Linked DNA regions of Homo sapiens: regions 1, 3 and 4 are each linked to region 2. The links come from fine-mapping of genetic effects on gene expression. A gene starts in region 2. Each other region holds a variant in brackets. All regions are shown on one strand. Distances are between the middles of the regions.

Region 1 (4,158 bases), 22 kb after region 2:
AGTGGATGTGGGTGTCCAGGCTAGTCTCAAATCCCAATGGCTGCCCCGGAATCCCCCCTGCACACCTCTCCTCCTGGTGCCCGGAGGGGGTGCCCACTCTGCTGCCAGGGATTTCCTGAGCAGCTGCTCCGACCACAGCCAGGGAAGAGTCCTTGCAGGAACTCTGCGGGCTGGGCCTGCCCTCCCCAGCCTTGGCATCTTCTTGTTGGTGTCTGAGTTTGAGTCTGTTCTGTGGGCTCTGTGGGAGGTGGGCCCAGCTTCTCACCATGCAGGACCCCTCACCCAGAGACTGAAACCCACTTTGACTAACATGCCTCTGGGTTCCTTCACTGGCCCTGCCCAGTCGCATCCCATGGGAAGAAGGACTGGCTGCTCGGGGTTCTCAGACCCTAGCCTGGGAAAACCAGTCTGAGGGCAGGGATAACCCTTGGCCCTGCCTCTGATTGGGCCCTGAGTTAGGTGGGGTTCTTCCCTGCTGGGGGTCCTGGAGGCATGGGAGGGTTTTGGGGTTCTGTGTGAGAGAGGCCCCAGTCCCTTCAGTTCTCACAGATCCCCCAAGGCTGTGTGTCTGATCCATTGCTTTACATAAGAGAGGAATTGGAGCCAGGCAAAGCCCAGGATTAAAATGGGTGGTGGAGGGGGGAAGCTGTGATTTGAATGTGTCCCTCTAAAAACACGTGTTGGAAACTCAGTCCTCAATGCAACAGTGTTGGGAGGTAGGGCCTAAGGGGAGGTGTTTAGGATGATCCATGGATGATCCATGCAGGTAACAAAAGGCCTCGAGGCTGGGCATGTGTTCTCTCACTCTCTCACACTCTCTTGCCATGTGATGCCTTCTGCCATGTGATGACACAGCAGGAAGGCCCTCACCAGATGCAGCCCCTCAAACTTGGACTTCCCATCCTCCAGAATCATAAGCCGAATCATCTTCTATTTTTTATTTTTTATTTTTTTTGAGACAGAGTCTTGCCCCGTCGCCCAGGCTGGAGTGCAGTGGCATGATCTCTGCTCACTGCATGCTCCGCCTCCCGGGTTCACGCCATTCTCCTGCCTCAGCCTCCCAAAGAGCTGGGATTACAAGTGCCCGCCACCATGACTGGCTAATTTTTGTGTTTTTAGTAGAGATGGGATTTCACCATGTTGGCCAGGCTGGTCTCGAACTCCTGACCTCAAGTGCTCCACTCACCTTGGCCTCCCAAAGTGCTGGGATTACAGGCATGAGCCACCACACCAGGCCTTTTTTGTCTTCTTATAAGGAGGTGAGTTGTATTGAATCAGGGCCCACTCCAATCAGGTGTGACTGCGACTTCACTTGATTATATCTGCAAAGGCCCTATTTCCAAAACGGTTGCATTCATAGGTACCAGGGGTTGAGGCTTTAACATATCTTTTAAAATTTTTATTATTTTTTTGAGACAGAGTCTTGCTCTGTCGCACAGGCTGGAGTGCAGTGGCGCGATCTCGGCTCACTGCAACCTCCACCTCCTGGGTTCAAGAAATTCTCTTGCCTCAGCCTCCTGAGTAGCTAGAATTACAGGCGCCCCCACCCACCCCACCATGCCTGGCTAATTTTTGTATTTTTATTAGAGCTAGGGTTTCACCATGTTGGCCAGGCTGGTCTCGAACTCCTGATCTCAAGTGATCCACTTGCCTCAATTTCCCAAAGTGTAACATATCTTTCTGGGGGACAGAATTCTACCCACAAATTCTAGATAAGGAGGCATTGCTTCTTTTTTCTTCTGGTATTGAATGTCACTTTGGAGAAGTCTGATGTCAAGTTGGTTTTCTTTGCTTTATAAGATACTTGGTCTTTCTGTCTGGCTGCCTAAAGGATTATTTCTTTATCTTCAAAGTCCAGTGATTTTACAAAGGCATGTTTTGTGTTGACTGTTCTGGGCCAACACACACAAGTATACAGCATGCACTTTTACAGGCAGGCGCAAGTCTGCCTGCATTTCAATAAAAGAGGTCTTGAATGATAGTTTCAATCCTTGTTCATCAGGTGCTGTGGTGCACACCTGTGGTCCCAGCTACTCAGGAGGCCAGAAGTTCAAGGCCAGCCTGGGCAACGCTAGCTTATATGAGATCATCTCTCACATAAATCAAGTAGTCAATTGTTCTGATCTGTTAGTTTTGCCTATCGTATGTGTACGCTGGAGCCCCTTTACTGTTTTTTTTTTTTTTTTTTTTTTTTTTTTGAGACAGAGTCTCGCTCTGTTGCCAGGCTGGAGTGTAATGGCACAGTCTCAGCTCACTGCAACCTCTGCCTCCTGGGTTCAAGTGATACTCCTGCCTCAGCCTCCCGAGTAGCTGGGATTAC[A/G]GGCACACATCACCATGCCCGGCTAATTTTTGTATTTTTAGTAGAGACGGGGTTTCACCATCTTGGCAAGGCTGGTCTTGAACTCCTGACCTTGTGATCCAACTGTCTTGCCTCCCAAAGAGCTCGGAGCTCGGATTACAGGCGGGAGCCACCGCGCCCGGCCCTTTACTGGTCTTTTATAGTCACTTTCTCTCTAATCCTTTTTAATCTCTTTCCTCTTTCTTTCCATTTGCTCACTTTTTCCTTTTTTACATGATTTTCGTGGTGTCTCTGCTCTCGTATTACCTGTAACTTCATTTCTTCATTTCTGAAATGGTTTTGTCTTTTTCTTCAGTTTCCTTCCTGAATTCTGTCATTTCCTACCACAGACTCCGCTGCCGTTTGGCCACCTCTTCCCTGCGTTCTTATTCTGTGCTTATTCTCCTCTGTTCTTATTCTGTGCTGTAGTCTCCCTTCGGAGCTGAAGTTCTTGTTGGAATATTAGATCATGATTTTCATCTGGTTTGTGGCAGTATTTGTCTGATGAGATTTCTTCATTTGTAGGAGAATAGCACTGCTTTTATTTTTTATTTTTATTTTTTAAGACTGCAGCTTGCTCTGTGACGCAGGCTGGAGTGCGGTGGCACAATCGTAACTCACTAGAGCCTTGACCTACAGCCTGCACTCGAGCAATTCTGCTGCCTCTGCCTCCGGAGCAGCTGGGGACTATAGGTGCATGCCACCATGCCTGCCTGGGTTTCTTTTTTTATTTTTTTGAGAGAGGGTCTCCCTCTGTCACCCAGGCTGGAATGCAGTGGCACAATCTCAGCTCACTGCAATTTCTACCTCCTGGGCTCAAGCGATTCTCCCATCTCAGCCTTCTGAATAGCTGGGACTACAGGTGCACACTATCGTGCCCGGGAATTTCTTAGTATTATTATTATTTTTTTTTTTGTAGAGACAAGGTTTCACGATGTTGTCCAGGCTGGTCTCGAACTGCTGGGCTCAAGTGATCTGCCCACCTTGGTCTCCCAAAGTATTGGGCGTGAGCCACTGTGCCTGGCCTTTTTTTTTTTTTTAAGTTAGACACTTAGGTCTCCTTATGTTGGCCAGGCTGATCTTGAACTCCTGGCCTCACTCAATCCTCCCGCCTCTGTCTTTCCCACAAAGTGCTGGTGTTACTGGAAAAGGGGGGGCTCTGATCCAGACCCCAAGAGAGGTCTCTTTGATCTCATGCGAGAAAGACTTTGGAGCGAGTTCACGGAGTAAAGTGAGAGCAAGTTTATCAGGAAAGTAAAGGGATGAAGAGGATCTGAGGTCTCCTCCCCTCCCTTTTGAGACCTTATAAGGTAACCTCCAGACATTGCCATGGCATCTGTAAGCTGTCATGGTGCTGGTGGGGGTGTCTTTTAGCAGCTAATGCATTCTAATTGGCATATAATGAGCCGTGAGGACAATCAGAGGTCACTCTCGTGGCCGCCTTGGTTTTGGTGGGCTTTGGCCGGCTTCTTTACTGCAACCTCCTTTATGAGCAAGGTCTTCATGACCTGTATCTTGTGCCGACCTCCTATCTCATCCTGTGACTTAGAATGCCTAACCTCCTGGGAATGCAGCCCGGCAGGTCTCAGCCTCATTTTACCCAGCTCCTGTTCAAGATGGAGTTGCTCTGGTTCACACGCCTCTGGCATTGGGATTTCAGGCGTGAGCCACTGCGCCCGGCCAGCATTGCTTTTGGAAGTGGAGAGCGTGCCCATTCTTGTTACTCGTTTATTTGAATAGGATGGTTGTTCCGGCCAGGAGGTGCTGGGCCACGGCTCCTGGGAGGACCTCAGCACCACTCGCTCCTGTTGGCAGCTGAG
Region 2 (4,158 bases):
TGAGAGCAGTGGCTGCAGAGCCGGGCAGGAAGTGCTTCTCTGAAAAAGCAGCCCTCACCTCAATTATCTTCCAGGGGGCGATCCAAGACCCCGTCTCCGTCTGATACCTACCTAGAGCGGCGAGTCAGGTGGGGTAAGAAGCCGACTGGAGTGACTATTTGCACGAACAATTCTCTCCCCCTACGTTTGAACTGACTGTGGCTCCTCCTGCCTCCTGACCACCCTGGGCCCTGGCACGCTCGGCAGAAAGAGCCACAGCACAAAGACCACCCGGGATGCACTACCGCCACTGAGAACCTCAAAAAGACCCGGACGGGTCTGACGCCTGCACACTTGGCTCCAGGATAGAACACCCTCACAGCACCGCCACCCTCCAAGCTTCCGTTATCTGGAAGGAAAATCAGGACGAATGGGCTCTGCAGGCCTGCCTGCCATAGTACCAGGCTCTCTGGAATGGGGGAAGACACACAAAATCCCCCAAAACACCCTCACCCCCGAAGAACTTCACGTTCTGTTCAGCAAAAAAGACTTGCCCACACAACTAGAACTTCAGGACTTAAAGGGACCAGAAAGATCATCTAGTCCAAGGCTCAGTCCAAAGTGGAGGTGAGCAGCTCGCCCTACCATGGTGCCCAGTGAACCTCAGGGAGGTTTAGGAGACATGACCCAACCCAAGACTGAAACTGGTCAGGCGAGCACCCAGCACCGGGGGACAGTGCAGGGGCAGCCCGAGGGTAGCTGGACCAGTGCAGGGGCAGCCTGAGGGCAGGTGTATTGCTGCAGGAGGCCTGGGCTGACAAAGACAGAGGACCAGCTGGAGGTGGCTGGAGGTAAGGTGGAGCGCACCAGGGCGGCCCTGCAGAGCAGGTGGAAGACTTGGGCCAGCACCCAAAAGGGAGCCGCTGGGGTTCCTGGGTCCGAGTGCACTTCCTCAGCGCCACCTCCAATCGGTCAGGGAGTCTATTTCGGGCTCCCCATTCCTCATGGGGAGGGGGGACTCCACCCACTCAACAGATGCCCAGTGCAGTGGGCACGGGGAGGCAGCACTGCATCCCGGCTGCTCCTGGTCACACCTGTTCCCTGCTGCTGGGAGGCCATCAACACATCCAAACCCAGCCGTGTCCCCAGCCCCTCCAGAATCCCTTCCTCCAAGAAGCCGCCCTGCCGCTCCAGCCCAGAGCGTTCTCCCACCTCCCACCTCCGCAGGCTGAACATTACGCCTGGGGCTTGACTGCTGGTCCCAGGAGCAGTTCAGGAAGGGCCTGTGGAGCTGATGCCCAGGCGTCAATCCCCATCCCCACGCAGTCTTATAACCGTCTGTCGTCTGTCTGTCCCCCACCTGTTTCTCCTCTCCCTTTTCGTTCCAAAAGTTCCTTCTTATTCTGCAAATCACTTACTTTCCCTCTCAAAGACTCAGGAATGCTTAAAACTGGACTATTGAGACAGAGATCTAATCTGACTCCTGCATTTGAGATGAGATAATGAGGCCCAGATGGTCGGCATAGTTCGAAAACACCCATTTCAGGTGTTTTCAGGAACACCTAACAAATGAAGCAACCGTATCTTAATGAAGAGAGCAGCTGGCCCAGGGTCACGCACCAATTAGGAAGCTGTTGTCCCGGGGGGCCCCACCGGCCGAGCCACCTTGGGGGTGCCCTTTCCCCTCGGGGCCTCCGTACCCTCATCTCTCAAATGAAGGAGAGGTCAGGTGAGCGCCCTGTTAAGACTGACTTTCAGCATTCCCAAGGTCGCGTTTTATGTGCTCTAAACCGATCCCATCTCCTCACCTCCTCATTTCTCGCTCAAATGAACAAGCACGGGCTTGCTACTGGGATTCCTTCTGTCCCTGGACACGTCTTTCTACCCAACATTTTGTTTTTCTTGTTTCCCCACATAGGGAGATAAGGTTGAGGGAACAGGCAAAGGCTCGGGAGGCAGGAGACCTGTGATCTAGCCTGGTTCTGTCCCTACGCTCGGGTCAGCAGGCCGCCCAGGCTGGGGAGGGCGACACTGACCCTCGGGGTGCCGGCCGCCACCTGCTTCACACGGCGTCGTCGCCGGCACGGGTACCTTTCCTGCTGCAGAAGGGGTCGGGGCGCCCCACCTGACACTTGGGGGAGGCTGTGCCAAGGACAGGGCGCGTAGGGCACAGGTGCCCCGGCTGCGCCCCCCTCCGCCTCCGACCCCTGGGCCCCGCTCCAACGACCCCAACCACGGCCCCCGCCCCCAGGCCCCGCTCCACCGACCGCGGGCCGCGCTCACTCGCTGGGCCTTCTCCCACAGCTGGTTCAACTTCTCCATGCGGAACTCCTCTCCGGACTCGCGTTTCGGGGACGGCTTGGGCTGGTTCTTCTCCCGCGAGTACTTGCCGCCGTGGCTCGCAGCGGGCCAGGGCCCGAGGAAGAGCAGCAGCAGTAGCAGCGCCGGGAGCCCGCGCAGAAACGACCTGACCCTCCGCGGCGCCATCTTCCTCTGCGACTGGCGCTGCGCGGAGAAAACCTAGCCTGCCGATGCCCCGCCCACTACCCCGCCCCCACCCACCGCGCGGTCTCCTGGGAATTGTAGTTCCTCCGTGAGCGGCCGGCAGCGGCGAGGCCGCCGGCGGACTCCAGCGCCTAGGAAGCCCTGCGCAGGCGCAAGCGTTTCCCAGGCAACCACGCCGCGGCCCGAGGCTGCAGACTCTGGCAGGGGATACAACTGGAGAATGAGGGTGGCCGGGTGGGAGCAGGGATCAGGCCTCACCCAGAGCCCGGAGCCTGGAGCCCGCACGACTCGAGGCCTCTTTCCCTCTCTGCCCCACAGAAAGAGCGGAAAGCCCAAGAACCGGGCCGCGTTTGGCTGAGCCTGATAATGCTCCGGCTTCACGCGCACTGACGCCGACTCTTGCATGTCCAGTGCCGTTGCGGGGTTGGCACTGCGGCCCGGGCCTGGCGCTGAGGAGCCTGGCCCAGCCCGCTTCTGCCCTCCGCGGAGCGCCTGGCCGTGGGTAAGCCCAGGCCAGGTTGTCCCGGGGACGCAGGGCCGCGCAGACGTCCCCCTACGTCCCGGGGCCCCTGCCCCAACCCGCGTCCCAAGCGCCTGCTCTCGCGCCTGCTGCAAGGCAGGACTTCGCGCGCTTTTCCCCAACCCATGACACTCTAGGAAATTCACAGAGCCAAAGTTAGCATAGACCGCTCGTTGGGGGCTTGGCCAGTGAGTTGGGAAGTGCCCTGGAGGTAGCGCGGGAAACAAGGGGAAGGAGGGAGACAGACAGCAGCTGGGCCCCTTTGGGCTCAGAGAAGGGACAAGGGGAGCTCATCTGGCAAGAATGATCTGAAAAGGCCTCCAAGGGTGGGCGGGATTTTGCGGGGGGAGGGAGGAATTTCCAACTGGAGGGACAATGACAAAGGGGGTGAATAGAGCCTGGGCATCTTGAGAGGAATTAATGTTAATTCATTTCCTTTTTTTGCGTGGGGGGATAGGGTCTCTGTCATCGAGGCTGGAGTGCAGTGGCATGATCATGGCTCACTGCAGCCTCGACCTCCTGGGCTAAAGCGATCCTCCTGCCTCAGCCTCCCAAGTAGCTGGAACTATAGGTGCGTGTCACCACGCCCAGCTAATTTTTGAAATTTTTTGGTAGAAATTAGGTCTCCCTATGTTGTCCAGGCTGTTCTCCAACTCCTGGGCTCAAGCAACCCTCCCGTCTTGGTCCCCCAAAGTGCTGGGATTACAGGCGTGGGCCACTGGGCCTACCCTAATTTACATTTAAATTGTATCTTGTGTTGTTCCAGAGAAGATTTCAGGTCCCTGGAATCAAGGTGATCTGCTTCTGTCCTGTGCTGCTTTTCTAGTATTTTCAGAGCCATCGTTTCATTTCTTTTTTTCCAGCTGTTGAGTTGTTTCAGGCAAGAGGGTAAATTCAGTCTGTTACTGCATCTTAGCTGGAAGCACAAGTTCCCAATATGGGATGTATGGGGGAGAGGAGGTAAAGGAATCCCCCAGGAGGGTGGTGGAGGGAGAATGACCTCATGCGAAGTGACTCCAGAGACAGATCAAATGCTGTCATTGCCATCATTGCATGTTTTTAAGCCTCAGGACAGAATGGCCAGGTGAGCCTGGCCTAGATTCTCACCTGTGCCTGCCTTCCCCTTGTGTTCCCTCGTTCCTGCTCTTCTCTCC
Region 3 (4,158 bases), 27 kb before region 2:
CTGCCCCGGCCTTGGCCCACTGCCCTCGAGCCACACCACCCATTCGGCTGCCACCCCACGCCCTGTCCTCGTGCTGCCCCTCCTGGTGCTCCTGCCTTTCACCTTCCCTTTTGTCAGAGCAGGAGCCTCTGCCCTAGACCACCCCCTCGGTTCAGCAGGCCCAGGCTGGTCCCTCTCGGCACCCGTGCCACAGGAAGCCTGGAGCGTCCGGGACGAGGCGAGGCCCGTGCAGACCCGATGGCACCGCACACTCACGCCCCACACACGGATGGGACCTGGGCTCAGCCCAGCTACCAGCAGCTCACATGTGGGGTGTGGGGACCTCGCCGTCCCCATGTCCCAAGCAGCCAACGCTGGCACGGGTGAGCATCTGTGACTCTGGGAATACCCGTGCCAGGCAGGCCACGTTATCCCGAACCAACTTAACTGCCTATCAACAGGAAGCTCGTACATCACCGCGGCCCGTCTCTCCCTGTGACGTGCAGCCTCAGCCTCCTGCGTTCAAGTGATCCTTCCCCCCCGCAGTTTCCTAAAGTGTTGGGATTACATGCGTAAGCCACCATGCCCGGCCAAAGTAAGTACACTTAGCAACTTAAAAATACACATGGATCAAAGAAGACATCATACTTGAAATGAGAAAATATTTTGAACTGAATGGCAGTGAAAACACTACACATCAAAACTTAGGGAAATGTGGTTAGTGTGGTACGTTGAGGGAAACTTATAACCTCACGCGCTTGTTTCACAAAACAACAGCAGACAACAGAGATTTCCAACTCCAGCAATGACAGGCTAGGGTACCTAGATGAACCATCACACTGAAAACACATGCTGCAGTAAATACTGAATTTCTCCTTAAGAGCTGTGGGAATCTGACAAGCCAGGAAGGTAGAAACAAGGGAGAAGTGAGGGACCCAGGGGCCCAGGAAGGTCGTGAGCGCCAAGCACCCAGTGCTGCTGCCCCAGGGCGTGGCCAGTCCAGGCTTACGGGGCTCAGGTCCTAGGGGGCTGACCAGCAGGGTGGGGCAGACACCAGGCTCCAGCCCAGCCTCAGGTGAGAGTGAAGGGAGCACCTATCTGCAGCAAGCTGAAGCCCCCAAATCTAGGCCCTGAGGGTGAATCGGTACCAACCCCCTCGCCCTATCCTGAATGTGAGCGGGGAAAGTGCTCACCTGGCAAGATCTGGCCTGCGGCCCTTCAGGGGTCAGCATGACTTGTGTGGGTCAGAAAGCCTCAGCCCCAAACCCGGTCTCAGAGGCTTAAGAACCCTCTCCAGGAGGATGATCCATATAACAGCTCTCAAATAGGCCCCCAAATAATTCTTCACAAACACTTAACAGTTCAGGCCGGGCACAGAAGCTCATGCCTGTAATCCCAGCACTTTGGGCAGCCGAGGTGGGCACATCACTTGAGGTCAGGAATTTGAGACCAGCCTGGCCAACATGGTGAAGTCCTGTCTCTACTAAAAACAGAAAAATTAGGCCAGGCATGGTGGCTCATGCCTACAATCCCAGCACTTTGGGAGGCCGAGGTGGGCGGATTGCCTGAGGTCAGGAGTTCGAGACCAGCCTGGCCAACATGGTGAAACCCTGTCTCTACTAAAAATACAAACATTAGCCCACTGTGGTGGTAGGGGCCTGTAATCCCAGCTACTTGCGAGGCTGAGGCAGGAGAATTTCTTGAACCCAGGAGGTGGAGGTTGCAGTGAGCCAAGATTGCGCCATTGCACTGCAGCCTGAGCAATTGAGATTCCATCTCAAAAAAAAAAAAAAAAAAACCAAAAAACAAAACACACACACACACAGAAAAATTAGCTGGGTATGGTGGCAGGTGCCCATAATCCCAGCTACTTGGGAGGCTGAGGCAGGGGAATCGCATGAACCTGGGAGGCAGAGGTTGCAGTGAGCCGAGATCGCACCAACGCACTCCAGCCTGGGCGACAGAGCAAGACTCCGTCTCAAGAAAAAAATAAATAACAAAGAACAGAAGACAACATGACCCCACAAGTGAACCAGAGGGAAAGACAGGAACAGACCATTGGAGACTTTAGGGATGGTTAGTGATACCAGAGGCTAAAATAATCATGTGCCCTACCA[T/C]GCACGCAGCCATGGTGGCCCGGGTCCTGCCACGCACGCAGCCATAGTGGGCTGGCTAAGCTGCAGGTTGTGCCTGAGCTCACGGACACGAGGAAGAAGGGCGACCGTGTCCTGGACAGCCCAGCTCGAGGCTGCTCTTCAGCCCCAGCCCCTGGTGTCCCGCAGCGGCTGCGGTGGCAGTGGTGGGGGAGCAGGCATGGCACCCGGAGCACTGGAGCCCAATGCAGGGTGACCCCTTCCCCCCAGCTCCAAATCCAGCATCCCTCCCCGGTGCCTAGCCCTCGCCAGGCTGCTGGCCCCATCGCTGGGAAGGAGTGGTTTGACCCCTCACCACTGAGAGGAGTAAGGTGTACTTCCTTGTCAAGCATGACTCCGAGCGGCACTTCTTCCACACCGCGCAGCTGCCTGTGCCTGGCAGGGGCCTCCTGCGGCCGGAACGTCCCCTGCATCCCCAACCACACCTGGCACAACACCATGGCTGAGGTGCGCTTCCAGCTGCACCAGCAGCCCACACGCCTCCTGAGCACCACTACCAGCTACCCCAAGCCCGTCTATACCAGCTACCCCAAGACCGTCTATACCAGCTACCCCAAGACCGTCTATACCAGCTACCCCAAGACCGTCTATACCAGCTACGCCAAGACCGTCTATACCAGCTACCCCAAGACCGTCTATACCACCACCCTGGATTACAACTCGGCAAGATGCTGGGGAGGTTTCTGTTAGGGTGGAGCTGGAAGCCATCAAGTTCCTGGGTAGAGATGACCTTTCAGATGGATGCTGACCCAGCAGGCTGGGCTGAGCTGGGACCAGCTCTTCCACTGCCCTGCTCCGAGCCTGCTCTGGTCAAGGTGGGCAATGCTGCCCTTCATGTACTTCCAGCCCCGGAGGAGCTGAACCTAGAGATACCTGGAAACCCAGCTTAGGGAAGTAAAAAAAAAATCACTGCATCTCATAATTATTGAGATATTTTTAAATTTTCAAGCTTTTTTTTTTTGAGACAGAGTCTTGCTCTGTTATCCATGCTGGAGAGCAATGGCACGATTTTGGCTCACTGCAAACTCTGTCTCCCAGCTTCAAGTGATTCTCGTGCCTTAGGCTCCCGAGTAGCTGGGATTATAGGCAGATGCTGCCACCACTCCTGGTTAATTTTTGTATTTTTAGTAGAGATGGGATTTTGTGATGTTGGCCAGGCTGGTCTCAAACTCCTGGCCTCAAGTGATCTGCCCGCCTCAGCCTCCCAAAGTGCTGGGATTCCAGGCGGGAGCCACCCACACTTGGCTCAAGCTGGGTTTTTTTTTTTTTTTGAGGCGAAGTCTTGCTCTTGTCCCCAGGCCGGAGTGCAATGGCGCGATCTCGGCTCACTGCAACCTCTGCCTCCCAGGTTCAAGCCATTCTCCTGCCTCAGCCTCCCAAGTAGCTGGGATTACAGGTGCCTGCCACCATGCCTGGCTAATTTTTTATTTTTAGTAGAGATGGGGTTTCACCATGTTGGCCAGGCTGGTCTCAAACTCCTGACCTCACGTGATCCGCCCACCTCCACCTCCCAAAGTGCTGGGATTCCAGGCATGAGCCACCGCACCCGGCCGGCTCGAGCTGTTTTTAAGAGGATATATCCTGGTTTGCTGCTGTGTAGTTTCCCCAAAGTCTCAATTTGATGAGAAAATAGAAAGACCACTAGAACGGAAAAATAAAAAATAAAAATTAGATTTCATCAAACTGGAAACCTTTGCTTTCCAAAAGATAACCATTAAGAAAGTAAAATAGCAAGCCAGAGGATCGGAAATTATTCACAACACATATCTGAGGAAGGACTCACACCTAGACCTGGGAATAACGCTAAGACCAGGCTGGGTGTGGCGGCTCCCGCCACCTGTAATCCTGGCACTCCGCGAGGTGGAGGCAGGTGAATCACTTGAGACCAGGACTCCGAGACCAGCCTGGGCAACACAGCGAGACCCAGTCTCTATAAAAAAAACCTTTTCTTTAAATTAGCAGAGCATAGTGATGCATGCCTGTAGTCCCAGCTACTCAGAAGACCGAGGTGGGAGGCTCGCTTGAG
Region 4 (4,158 bases), 33 kb before region 2:
GCCCCAGCTCAGGGAGGAGGGGCTGTGTCCTCAGACAGCGGTGGGGGCCTGTGGAGGCTGGGCTGGTGGTGAGCGACTCGGCGAAGGGCAGGGCATTGGTGCCCTGGCAGGTGCAGTTTTGGGGCCAGGTTGGGAGGGAGGGCCAGGCAGGGAGGCAGTGGGAAGGTACGGATCCCCAGGGTCTCCCTAGAGAAGCCTGGCAGTCACTGGGGACAGAGCCCTGCTGAAGGTTGGGCAGGGCTGAGAGGCTGGAGATGAGGACGGCTGGCCTGGGGTAGATGGGTGGCATCAGGGCCAGTTCTGTGCCTGTTTCCTTGTGGAGTAGGAGCCACTGCGGGCTAAACCTTGGATTCCTCAATCCCTTCTTCCCAGGCAGGTGGCACCTACAGGGGGGCGGGGTCCAGGCAGGCCTGGAGAGGACACCCAGGGTGGGGGAGGCGCCCAGGCAGGCCTGGAGGGGACAGTCAGGGATGGGGGCGGAGCCACAGGCAGGCAGGGGCAGCTTGGGAAAGCCCCCACCAGTCTGCCTTGGCCCTGGGCTGGACACCGATCCCTGCAGTCCAGTGTGCTGAGGCAGCCACCAGACCAGAGGTGGTGGGGCCAGCCCTGCCCCAAGGGTCCTCCTGGGCAGCCTGCTGTTGCCTCCCCGAGGCCACCCGTACCCTTCAGATGTCTTTTACCCAGACAGGGGTGCCCTGGGACACAGGTGTGGGGATCAAGGGGACAGGCCCAGTATCTGCTGGAGGATGTGAATCTTTTCCACAGAGGCCGGGGGCTCAGGAGGGGCGCCTGGGGTCTGTCATGGGACAGAGATGAGCCAGGCCCAAGTGGTAGCGTCGGGCTGCCAGCCCAGGGCGGGGTCTGGGAGGAGAGTGCAGAAGGGCCAGCCGATTCCCGGTTGCTGCTTCACTGAAAGAGTATCCGAGGTACTGGAAGCGATGCTCACAGAAGCCGAAGCAAAATCCAAGTCCCAAGGAGGGGACGGGAGGAGGAGCACTGAGGGCCCTGGAGCCAGTGGCCTTGGGGGAGATACAGATACGGACACACTGCTGGCCCAGCGCTGCTTACAGCCCCCGTGTGACTCCGGGTGGTGTTGGGAACATTCGTCCCCTTTCCCTGCAGTCAGGCCTCATGCTCCTTCCTGCTTCCACCCTCACCCCTCACCGCCCAACCTTGGGAGCAAACTTGGAAGAACGGATGCAATCCTAAAACGAGGTACCAGGCTGCAGGGGGGTGTCCAGCCCCACCGTGGGCAAGCCCCGGCCCTGCCCCTTGGCTTCAAGGCCCCCTTTCCAGACGCCAGGCCCCGGCGCTCCCTCAGCTCTCCCCAGGCCCTCACCCCACCTGCCTCTCCCACCACCCCCTCTTGGCCTAGCCCCTCAGCCATGCCCCCTCCTCTAGGCAGCTGGCCCTGCTGGCCCTGTCCCTGCTGGCCCAGGTGCCTGCCTGGGCACCAGAACTTGGCCGCTATGTTCTGTGGCTCATCTCGATGAAGGGGTCCTGGCATTCCGAGGGGACCAGCCCTCTAGGACCACACATTTGCAGGAGGGGGGTCTCCCCAGGGCCTCAGGGCCAGGCAGGGTTGGGGCAGAATTGTGTTGGTTGCTTTAGTTCATGGAATCAGGTGAGCGAACCCTCGTCGACCTGGGCTCCATCTCGCTCTGTCCCAGCTGCTGCCTGCAGAATCAGCGAGTCAGGTCTCCCTGGCCTCAGTTTCCCCACTGGGAGCAAGCAAGTGAAAGTTCCTCACCCCTAGCCCTGCTGCAGGGAGTGACGGGGACAAGGGTGAGAGGAGCCAGGCAGAGTGGATGTCTGCGGCAGGTGCCGGGCAGCGGGTGGCCACAGGAGAACCTGGTCTGCTGAGGATGCATCCCT[G/T]GGGCAGGGAGGCCCAGCCTTGAGTCAGGCCCCTCCCCTGGACAGGCAGGTGTTTCAGGGAGGCCGACCCTGCAGGGCTGTCACCCGCTGGATCCCAGCCCCCACCTGAATTCTGAGGGCTCGGAGTGTGCTGGGGGTGGGGAGGTCACTGTGGGTGGGGCTTGGCTGTGTCTCCCAGCCACTGGCTCAGGGAATGGGGGGGGACTTGCTGTCACCTCCCCTGCCTCACGTGGCTGTGCGTTCCCTCACGAGGTCCTGATGACAAGAATGGGAGGAGGCACTGGAGAACGGGGTCCTTCCTGTAGAACCTGGGTGCCCACGGTGCGGAGCCCTCAGGCCTGCAGAGGAGGGGCCGGTGTGCGTCCAACCCCCTAAGGTGGGAGCCTGCCTCAAGTCCCACCCAGCCGGGCCTGTGGGGTCCCCTCCTATCCTGCTCCTGCTCTGCCCTCCCCAGCACCAATGGGGTGTGCAGACAGAACCATCAGCTATTAGGAAGGGGGTCGGGGGAAGGGAGTAGCTCCTATGAGGGGGGAGAGGGTGTGGGGCACCTGGGTGTCCTGGAGGGGATGCAGAGGGAGCGTGGGCCTGTGTGCAGGAGAGGAGGGGGTCCCTGGAGCCTGCAGCAGGTGGGGGTGACCCCGGAGGACAGTGAGGGGGAGGTGCTGGGGGCCAGGACAAAGCAGGGCTGTGCTGGCCCGGGAGGGTTAGGTAGAGAAGGTGCTGGGACAGCCAAGGAGGGGCGGTTGGTGGAGAGAGTTGGGAAGGTGCGGGGCGAGGGGCGCAGGGACAGAAGAGTGGGCCTTGGGGGGCCCATGGGGGGGTCGGCAATTCCTGCAGGGGAGGCGGCACAGTGGAGGGGACAGCGCTTCCTTCTGCTCTGTGGGTACTTGGACCAGGAGTGGACAGTGTGGGGGGGGCCTCAGGATGGGGCAGCGCTGGGCCAAAGATGGACGGTCAGGAACATGGAGCGGGAACTTCCAAGGTGCAGGAGAGGCGGAGTGGGGAGGAGGGGCTAGGCAGGGTGGGCAGCTCTTTACTGCACAATCTTTGAGATCTGTGCCCCTCTCGGTCCCCACCGGGGCTTCACAGCCGCTCCCCCCACAGGATCCCCAGGACCCGTGGCTGTGGACAGCCCAGGACCAGAGAGGCCGCGCGGCGAGTCGCCCACTTACGTGAACATCCCCGTCAGCCCATCCTCCAGAAAGCAGCTGCACTACATGGGCCTGGAGCTCCAGGAGGCCAGCGAGGGTGTCCGAGGTGGGTCCCCGCCCTGCGTGGAGGCACTGACAATTGGGGGCTGGGACCACAGCCTCAGGGCCCTGAGCCCCCAGCCCCACCCAGCAGCCCTTGGCCAGGGAGCTTTTCCTACAGCCTCCCCCCAGGAGGCAAATGTCCCCAACTCCATCCCTGGCCAGGCCACATCCCCTGAGGGTGTCCCCACTCAGATGCTTCCGAGGGCCTGGCTGGGGGACTGGTGTGGAGGGCAGGGTCACAGGGCTGGGTGGCTCGGGGCGCAGGCTGCCGCTCACTACAGAATTCTTTCAGGGGCTGGCGCCTCCCTCTACGCCCAGATCGACATCATGGCCACCGAGACGGCGCACAGAGTGGGGGTGCGGCACGCACGGGCCCGGGAGGAGCAGCTGTCGGAGCTGGAGCAGAGGAAGGCAGCCCCGCAGTGAGGTCACAGCGCCAGGAGCTGACCGCAAACCCGGTGCGCTGTGCGGCCCCGTGGCCCCCGGCAGGCCAGCCCCTTCTGTTGGGCGTGGTCTGGTCCCCAGGGAGCTCCCAGTCGCAGGAGCAGGCATGGCCGGTCTCCGGGCCATGGTGCAAACAGGAAGTTTTCAGGGCCCACGGCCAGGCCTCCTGCCTCACAGGTGTCCGGGGCTGACCCTTCGGCCTGAAAGAGTTGCTCTGGACCCCAGGCTGACTGAGGCCCTGCTTCCAGGCATCAGGCAGCTCTGGTAGCTGCTGTGGCATCTCAGGCAGAGGCTGCTGCCCAGGAGTTTGGGAGCATGGTTTGTGGTGCCTGGGATGCAAACCGCCCTCTCACCCTGGGGGTGACTGCATGGATGACAGCCGTGTCCTGGCAAAATGCTCATCCCTTCACCTGGGTGTTGTGGCCCTGCAGAGCCAGGACCCAGTGCCCGCTCCCACTGTCGGCACCATGCCCGCTCCTGAGACTGGCGGCTCAGACACTCCCGGAATCCCCTCCCCGCCTCCCGGCTGTCCTGCCTGGGCCACCGCCACCCTGCACCTGGGGACGGAGCCTGGACTCTCCCAGCC

Direction of the effects. Alleles are on the strand shown, and positions count from the first base shown. SD is a standard deviation of normalised expression in the study named. Not every link is listed here.
For the expression in sun-exposed skin of the gene that starts at base 2,476 in region 2, allele T in region 3 goes with a lower level than allele C (small effect, 0.23 SD a copy in GTEx).
With allele G in place of T in region 4, the expression in activated CD8 T cells of the gene that starts at base 2,476 in region 2 is higher (large effect, 1.1 SD a copy in Schmiedel 2018).

The links. PIP is the estimated chance that this variant, and not a neighbour inherited with it, causes the effect.
Region 1: its variant is the best candidate, but not a certain one, in a credible set for the expression of LRPAP1 in whole blood (INTERVAL, PIP 0.66).
Region 3: its variant is the best candidate, but not a certain one, in a credible set for the expression of LRPAP1 in sun-exposed skin (GTEx, PIP 0.56).
Region 4: its variant is the best candidate, but not a certain one, in a credible set for the expression of LRPAP1 in activated CD8 T cells (Schmiedel 2018, PIP 0.81).

The regions. Positions count from the first base shown.
Region 1 is chr4:3,551,508-3,555,665 of GRCh38, forward strand. No RefSeq gene overlaps it. Among named protein-coding and RNA genes, the nearest start is that of LRPAP1, 21 kb to the left of the region's middle. The variant A/G (reference allele first, on the strand shown) is at 2,321.
Region 2 is chr4:3,529,947-3,534,104 of GRCh38, forward strand. LRPAP1 (LDL receptor related protein associated protein 1) reads right to left here and starts at 2,476. Exons shown (of 8, transcript NM_002337.4): 1 at 2,263-2,476. The coding sequence starts at 2,466. RefSeq lists silencers at 1,966-2,215, 2,656-2,715 and an enhancer at 2,256-2,465.
Region 3 is chr4:3,502,988-3,507,145 of GRCh38, forward strand. It overlaps LRPAP1 (LDL receptor related protein associated protein 1), which reads right to left. Exons shown (of 8, transcript NM_002337.4): 8 at 625-4,158. Among named protein-coding and RNA genes, the nearest start is that of LRPAP1, 27 kb to the right of the region's middle. The variant T/C (reference allele first, on the strand shown) is at 2,097.
Region 4 is chr4:3,497,272-3,501,429 of GRCh38, forward strand. It overlaps a transcript of DOK7 not described here. Among named protein-coding and RNA genes, the nearest start is that of LRPAP1, 33 kb to the right of the region's middle. The variant G/T (reference allele first, on the strand shown) is at 1,876.